Homo sapiens: one gene and its partner. The protein of the gene in region 2 purifies or fractionates together with the protein of the main gene of each other region. This does not show direct contact. Each region holds a gene or a part of one and is shown on either strand. Other genes may lie near its edges. The genes, in order: WDR33 and ARHGAP4.

The links.
Region 1: the proteins of ARHGAP4 (region 2) and WDR33 purify together in Homo sapiens (affinity purification with mass spectrometry, with the first as the bait; one large-scale study listed by BioGRID). This does not show direct contact.

What each region holds. Positions count from the first base shown.
Region 1 is NC_000002.12:127,804,508-127,808,319, forward strand, and holds part of WDR33 (pre-mRNA 3' end processing protein WDR33), read right to left. Parts: intron 1-3,812. UniProt on the Homo sapiens protein: Essential for both cleavage and polyadenylation of pre-mRNA 3' ends.
Region 2 is NC_000023.11:153,908,953-153,912,764, reverse strand, and holds part of ARHGAP4 (rho GTPase-activating protein 4), read left to right. Parts: coding exon 1-65; intron 66-1,575; coding exon 1,576-1,636; intron 1,637-1,765; coding exon 1,766-1,843; intron 1,844-1,930; coding exon 1,931-2,065; intron 2,066-2,153; coding exon 2,154-2,259; intron 2,260-2,360; coding exon 2,361-2,594; intron 2,595-2,679; coding exon 2,680-2,753; intron 2,754-2,840; coding exon 2,841-3,024; intron 3,025-3,229; coding exon 3,230-3,322; intron 3,323-3,595; coding exon 3,596-3,695; intron 3,696-3,812. UniProt on the Homo sapiens protein: Inhibitory effect on stress fiber organization. May down-regulate Rho-like GTPase in hematopoietic cells.

The DNA of each region.
Region 1 (3,812 bases), on a different chromosome or scaffold from region 2:
CATATCTGTGAATAACACTAAATGGCTCCGAAAATAATACATGAGGGGCTGGGAGGCAGGAAGGGAGGAATAAAGCAAATGTGACAAAATGTTAAAAATGGGTGAATCAGAATAAAAAGTACATAGGAGTTCTTTGAACTATTCTTCCAACTCTTCTGTTAGTTCATATTTATTTCAAAATTTAAACATTTAAACACGAAAGGGGGAAAGCAAAAGCTCTTTATTACAGAAAACAGTTAATGAATATAAACAAATAACAAAATTAGAAAACCCCCAATAAATGACTCAGCTAATAATCATCAATCATTAAGTGAAAAATATTTTGAGAAGTGAGGTACTCACATGATGCTAAAGTTATCACCCCACAGATCAAGTATAACTGCAAAGGGAAAAATATACCTCTTTGATGAAGAAATCCAATGGACACATTAACCAGGTAAATTTGGCATTGTAAATAACGCAAGCTAACATCTGGCAGTCCCTACCACCTTATTGAAGGCTCATAGCTAGAAGTATATCCTCACAACATAAATCACGTATCATCACCTGTGAAGTTTTTTCTTTTTTTTTTTTTTTTTTTTTTTTTTTTTGAGACAGGGTTCTCTTGTCGCCTAGGCTGGAGTACAGCAGCAGGATGTCGGCTCACTGCAGCCTCCACCTCTCTGGCTCAAGCCATCCTCCTGTCTCAACCTCCCAAGTAGCTGGGACTACAGGCGCAGGCCACCAAACCCAGCATTTTTTTTTCTTTTTTTAAAATAGAGACAGGGTTTTGCCAAATTGTCCAGGCTGGTCTTGAACTCCTGGGCTCTAGCAATCCATCTGCCTCAGCCTCTCAAAGTGCTGGGATTACAGACATGAGCCAGCGCACCTGGCCTCTATGAAGTATTTTTGCCAAAAATATTTGACCCAAATTTAGTCAAACCTCTCTAGATCTAACTTCTAGTTTACAGGAAATAAAAGGAATAGAGAAACAACAGGAATTGAGAAACAAAATACATGACATTTTAAGCATACAATAAGAAATTCCAAAATATGGAACGTTCTTTAAAAAGATGAGGCTAGCTGTTTGTGGTGACAGAGTCAGGAAGGGGCAGCAGGTGCCAGGTCCGGCCTCAAAGGTGGCAAGAAGAACCCTTTGAAACTGCCCAAAAAGCAGGCCAAGAAGATGAATAAGGCTTTCAAGCAGAAACAAGAAAAGGAACGAAAGAAACACAAGGAGCTAAAAGCGAAAGCCTCCTGGAAGGGGCTCCGGCCACAGGTGGAATTTAAAAATCTGGCAGAAAGTAAGCTGTGCCCTGTGCCTGAAGCAATGGTGACCCTTGATTTCATTCGTATTTAAACATCTGTATTCCCTGCCATAATATCTGTTGCCACCTATAGCTGGAATGAAGTGTCGTCTTGAAGCTGGAGTCTACTGCACATTAAAGAATAAACTTTTGTTTAAAAAAAAAAAAAAAACCGCAGGTGTGGTGGCTCACACCTGTAATCCTAGCACTTTGTGAGGCCAAGGTGGGCAGATTGCTTGAGCTGGGAGGTTGAGGCTGCAGTGAGCTGTGATTGTGCCACTGCACTCCAACCTGGATGACAAAGTAAGACCCTGTCTCAAAATAAACAAAATTTTAAAATTTTAAATAAAAAATATTAATAAAATAAATTAAAATGCTTACAGTGGCTCATCATCTCTTTAGTTGTTTTTCTTTTTCTTTTTTTTTTTTTTTTTGAGACAGTCTCGCTCTGTTGCCCTGGCTGCAGTGCAGTGGCACAATTTCAGCTCACTACAACCTCCACCTCCTGGGTTCAAGCGATTCTCATGCCTCAGTCTCCCGAGTAGCTGGGACTACAGGCATGCGCAACCACACCCGGCTAATTTTTGTATTTTTAGTAGAGACGAGGTTACACAATGTTGGCCAGGCTGGTCTCAAACTCCTGACCTCAGGTGATCTGCTCACCTCAGCCTCCCAAGTGCTGGGATTACAGGCGTGAGCCACTGCGCCCGGCCTCTCTTTAGTTGTTTTCACTCCATTCCTGCCTTAGCTATGAATTTAAAGTAAAACCAGCCCAGAATCTTGCCAGAGACTGCTCTTTGGTCTTTGTTCTACCCTAAACTCTGTGTAACCTAGAATTAAACCAACTCTTCAACAACTGTGGAACAAAGCCAAAAAAAAATAGAACTACACCAACTCATTCGAAAAAAAAAAAAAGATGATGCTAAAGATTTCATGCTAATTGCCTTAGGTATGATAATGATTTTATATGTTTTCAGCTGGAGACTGGCTTGAAATAAAAATGTAGAAAAGCGTAGGAAAAAGCATTATTTCAAAGACATGCATCCTGAGGTATTACAGGGAAAAGCAGTATATCTGCAATTTAATTTCAAATCATTCAAGAAAGGGAGGATATAGAGTTAAAGCAAAATGGTTAAATGTTGGTTAACAGTCGAATCCAAACAGAAGGCATATGGGTGTTCACTGTAGTATTCTTTCACCTTTGCTGCATGTTTGAAATTTTTTTTTTTAAGACGGCATTTCACTCTTGTTGCCCAGGCTGAAGTACAATGCGCAATCTCAGCTCACTGCAACCTCCGCCTCCAAGGTTGAAGCAATTCTCTTGCCTCAGCTTCCCAAGTAGCTGGGATTACAGGAATGTGCCACCACGCCCAGCTAATTTTTTTTGTATTTAGTAGGGATGGGGTTTCACCATGTTGGCCAGGCTGGTCTTGAACTCCTGACCTCAGGTGATCCACCTGCCTCGGCCTCCCAAAGTGCTGGGATTACAGATGTGAGCCACTGCACCTGGCTTGAAATTTCTTAAAGTTGCAAAAAAGTTACCAGAATATTCCATATACCAAAAAAGGAAAATTGCTGCTCCACCTACTAAGTTGAGAGCAAACAGAGTAGAGAGCAGGTGCCTATAACAACAAACTGCCTAAAGCACAGTTTTGCACGTATCATCCCACTCAAGGATCTGCTCAAAATGGTAAGGCATAGAGGCAGGTACTAATGGGACACAAAGTAACAGAAGGCAGTCACACAGACACTAGACTAACTAAACAAGTTATGAATAAATGAGAGTCACTGAAGACCTCATTAATTGGATTTAGCTGGATTTTAAGGACTGAACAGAATAGGAATAGTGTGAAAGGAAGGAGAATACAATCTAGGCAAAGAGTTAATAAGCAACAGCCAAAGATCAGAAATAAACCAAGTCATGAGGGGAATTTTTGTAGAAAATTCATTCTTCAATTTGTATAATGCCTAGGTTTTAGGAATACAAAAATATAAGGTACTATAGCACGTCTTCAACGTGCTCACAAAGAGCTGGCAGCAGGGACTCATGACTCCCAAGACTTTGAAAGGCTGAAGTGGGAGGATCGCTTGAGCCTAGGAATTAGAGGCTACAGTGAGCCATGATCATGCCACTGTATTCCAGCCTGGGTGACAAAGTGAGACCCTGTCTCAGAAAACAAACAAACAAACTAAAAACCAAAGTATTCACAAGTAGTGGAGAAGGTATAGTCAAAATACATTAAAGATATATACAAAATGCTTTAATAGCAGAGAAAGGAGTGATTAACTTATCAGAGGAATGAGATTGTCAGTAAATTTCAACAAAGATATTTGAGTTAATGTTTAAAACTGAAAATGATGTCACCAATTAAATTCATCACAGAAAGAAAAAAAATGTTAACATTTAAAGAATGCCTACTATATATGAGGCACTTTTTACCTTTAGGTTTTATAGTTAACATTCTTATATACAAAGAAACTGAAGCTTAGAGAGTTTAATTAACTGACCCAATATAAAAAAGGTAG
Region 2 (3,812 bases):
AGCCCCGCCCCAGCTCCCAGTATAACCAGAGACTCTTTGGGGGAGACATGGAGAAGTTTATCCAGGTACTAGCTTTGCCCCACATGCCAGCCCACCTGTACATGCTGATCTTTCTTCAGCTCTGGGTCACCTCAGTGGCCGGAGCAGCTGCCTGATCCCAGGGTCCTCCACTCTCAATCAGTCATCAACTGTCCTTTTCTGGGTGGGCCTCTTCCAGGCCACTGTTGGGCTCCCCTATAGCCTCCGCTGATTGAAGGGAGCATCCTTAACTAGTAATGGGAACGTATAGAAAACCTGGGGCAGCGGCATTTTTAGGGGCGAGATATTGAGAGCTTCTCCCCTGCGACTTCTGGCCAGCATGGTACTGGGGGTCCTGGACAGTGAAATAAGGGGAAGCAAGAAAGATCAGAAAACTAATACTGAGATCAGAAAGCATCAGAGGGGGCCAGGCACGGTGGCTCACACCTGTAATCCCAGCTCTTTGGGAGGCTGAGGTGGGCAGATCCCTTCAGCCCAGGTGTTCGAGACCAGCCTGGGCAACATGGTGAAACCCCGTCTCTACTAAAAATACAAAAATTAGCCAGGCATGGTGGCACGTGCCTGTAATCCCAGTGAAAGAAAGAAAGAGAGAGAGAGAGAGGGAAGGAAAGAAGGAAGGAAGGAAAAGAGAGAGAAAGAAAAGAAAAGAAGCAAGCAAGCATCAGAGAGGGCCAGGCATGGAGAATACCAGAAGATCAGAACTGATATCGTCATTTTCAGTGATGTGGTTATGCGTGTAGCATATTCAAAAGAATCAACAGATTCTTTAAACGAGCACTTTGAGTTTCTTTCTTTTTTTTTTTTTTTTTATTTGTTGAGACTGGTTCTTGCACTGTTGCCCAGGCTGGAGTGCAGTGGCACGATCTCAGCTCCCTGCAACCTTCACCTCCCACCTGCTGGGGTTCAAGCGATTCTCATGCCTCAGCCTCCCAAGTAGCTGTGTGCACCATCACACCTGGCTAATTTTTATATTTTTAGTAGAGGTGAGGTTTCACCGTGTTGGTCAGGTTGGTCTCGAACTTCTGACCTCAGGTGATCCTCCTCCCTTGGCCTCCCAAAGTGCTGGGATTACAGGCATGAGCCACCACACCCAGCTTGAGTTTTGAAATGTTACTTGATTCAAGATTGGTGTACAGAATTCAATTGCATTTGTATATTCCAGCAACAATTTGCAAATACAACGTAAGGCACTGCCTAAAACCTCATCAAAAATATCAGACACCTACGAGTGGATCTAACAAACGGTGTGCTAAGCCTCTGTGCCGACAACGATGATGTGTTCTTCAGAGAAAATAAAAGCACTCAGCCTGGTGCGGTGGCTCATGCCTGTAATCCCACCATTGGGGAGCTTGAGGCAGGAGTATCACTTGAGCCCAGGAAGCTGAGGCTACAGTGAGCCGAGATCACGCCAGTGCACTTCAGCCTGGGTGACAGAGTGAGACCTTGTCTCAAAAAAAAAAAAAAAAAAAAAAAGCAATTGAATGACAACACAGGGCATGCTGTGTCCATGGTGAAGTAAACACCCTCTGTCCCCAGAGCTCAGGCCAGCCTGTGCCCCTGGTGGTGGAGAGCTGCATTCGCTTCATCAACCTCAATGGTAAGCAGGACCCAGCCCCTCCCGATGTCCTGGCACCCAGCACCCAGTTCCCAGCACCTGGCATGGGAGGCCATCCTGGAGGGGCTGGGGAAGATGCTCAGTGCCCACCAGCTCCTTGTCCTCCCACAGGCCTGCAGCATGAAGGCATCTTCCGGGTATCGGGTGCCCAGCTCCGGGTCTCAGAGATCCGTGATGCCTTCGAGAGAGGTGGGGACGGGCAGGGCGGGCGGGGGTGGGGGCTCGGGCAGATGTCACCAGCTTCCTCCCCCTACCGCACCACTCGCCCATCTGCAGGGGAGGACCCACTGGTGGAGGGCTGCACTGCCCATGACCTGGACTCGGTGGCCGGGGTGCTGAAGCTCTACTTCCGGAGCCTGGAGCCCCCACTCTTCCCCCCAGACCTGTTCGGCGAGCTGCTGGCTTCTTCGGGTGAGGCTGGGGCCTGAGGCTGGCGGGGTAGGGCACTTGCTGGGGCAGCCCCGCTCACGCGGCTCTCTCTGGGCGGCTTTGGCCACAGAGCTGGAGGCCACAGCGGAGAGGGTGGAGCACGTGAGCCGCCTGCTGTGGCGGCTGCCCGCGCCGGTGCTGGTGGTTCTGCGCTACCTCTTCACCTTCCTCAACCAGTGAGTGCTGCGGGGCGAGTGCTGGGGTGGGGGCCAGGGGTCGAGGGGACAGGGGGACTCGGGGTGCGGGCTCTCTGCTTGTGATGTGCGTGTCCCCCCAGCCTGGCCCAGTACAGCGATGAGAACATGATGGACCCCTACAACCTGGCCGTGTGCTTCGGGCCCACGCTGCTACCGGTGCCCGCTGGGCAGGACCCGGTGGCGCTGCAGGGCCGGGTGAACCAGCTGGTGCAGACGCTCATAGTGCAGCCCGATCGGGTCTTCCCGCCCCTGACCTCGCTGCCTGGCCCCGTCTACGAGAAGTGCATGGCACCGCCTTCCGCCAGCTGCCTGGGGTACACCCTTGGTGCTGCCGAGGGGACTGGGGGGTCCACTGGAGAAGAGCCCCCCTCATCTGCCTCGCTCTGCCCTGAACCTCAGGGACGCCCAGCTGGAGAGCCTGGGGGCGGACAATGAGCCGGAGCTGGAAGCCGAGATGCCCGCACAGGAGGATGGTGAGGGCGATGGGCAGAGAGCCCCACCCTGTCCCCACCCTAGTGTCCACACCCCCTCCCACAGCTTGGACCCCCTCTCCTCCCCAGACCTGGAGGGGGTCGTGGAGGCTGTGGCCTGCTTTGCCTACACGGGCCGCACAGCCCAGGAGCTGAGCTTCCGGCGGGGGGACGTACTGCGGCTGCACGAGAGGGCCTCGAGCGACTGGTGGCGGGGGGAGCACAACGGCATGCGGGGCCTCATCCCCCACAAGTATATCACGCTGCCCGCCGGGTGAGTGAGCCGCGCCCTCAGGCCCCAGGGCTCCCGGAGTCTCCCCTTCATCCACCCCTCCCCCGACCCCAAGTTAGATTCTGAAGGTCTGGGCTGGGCCAGAGAACAGAGCCTCTCTGACCACTCCTGGCTGGCGCGGAGCTGCTGGCCCTGGACCCCGTGCAGGGAAGGAGCACTCGAAACAGGCCGGTCCTTCCCACCGCAGGACGGAGAAGCAGGTGGTGGGCGCAGGGCTGCAGACTGCAGGGGAGTCTGGGAGCAGTCCCGAGGGCCTCCTGGCATCGGAGCTGGTCCACCGGTGAGCAAGAAGACGGGGCTCAGGGGGCCACACGTGTGCTGTTCTAGGCCAGAGGGGACTGGGGTCAGGCTTTGGCCAGTGGGAGTGGGAGGAGTTGGCAGATGAGGACGTGACAGAATGACCCAGCTTGTGACAGGGAGAGGCTCTAGAGGAGCTTGGGGACCACTGGGCCAGCCTCCTTTCCTTGGCCACACCCCAGGATGGGAGGAGCCACTGCCCAGCTAGCTCAGGGACTTCCCAGGGCCCCCACCAGGCTCCCTGTCTGTCCTGCAGGCCAGAGCCATGCACCTCACCTGAGGCCATGGGACCCTCTGGACACAGACGACGCTGCTTGGTCCCAGCCTCCCCAGAGCAACACGTGGAGGTGGATAAGGTGAGAGTGGGTGTGTGGCAGGTGAGGGACATCTGTCCTGGGGGATCTCTGCCTCCCCTTGGAAGCCAAACTCCTCCCTCCTCGAGGTTCCAGTCGTTGCCCTCCCTGGCCTTAGCT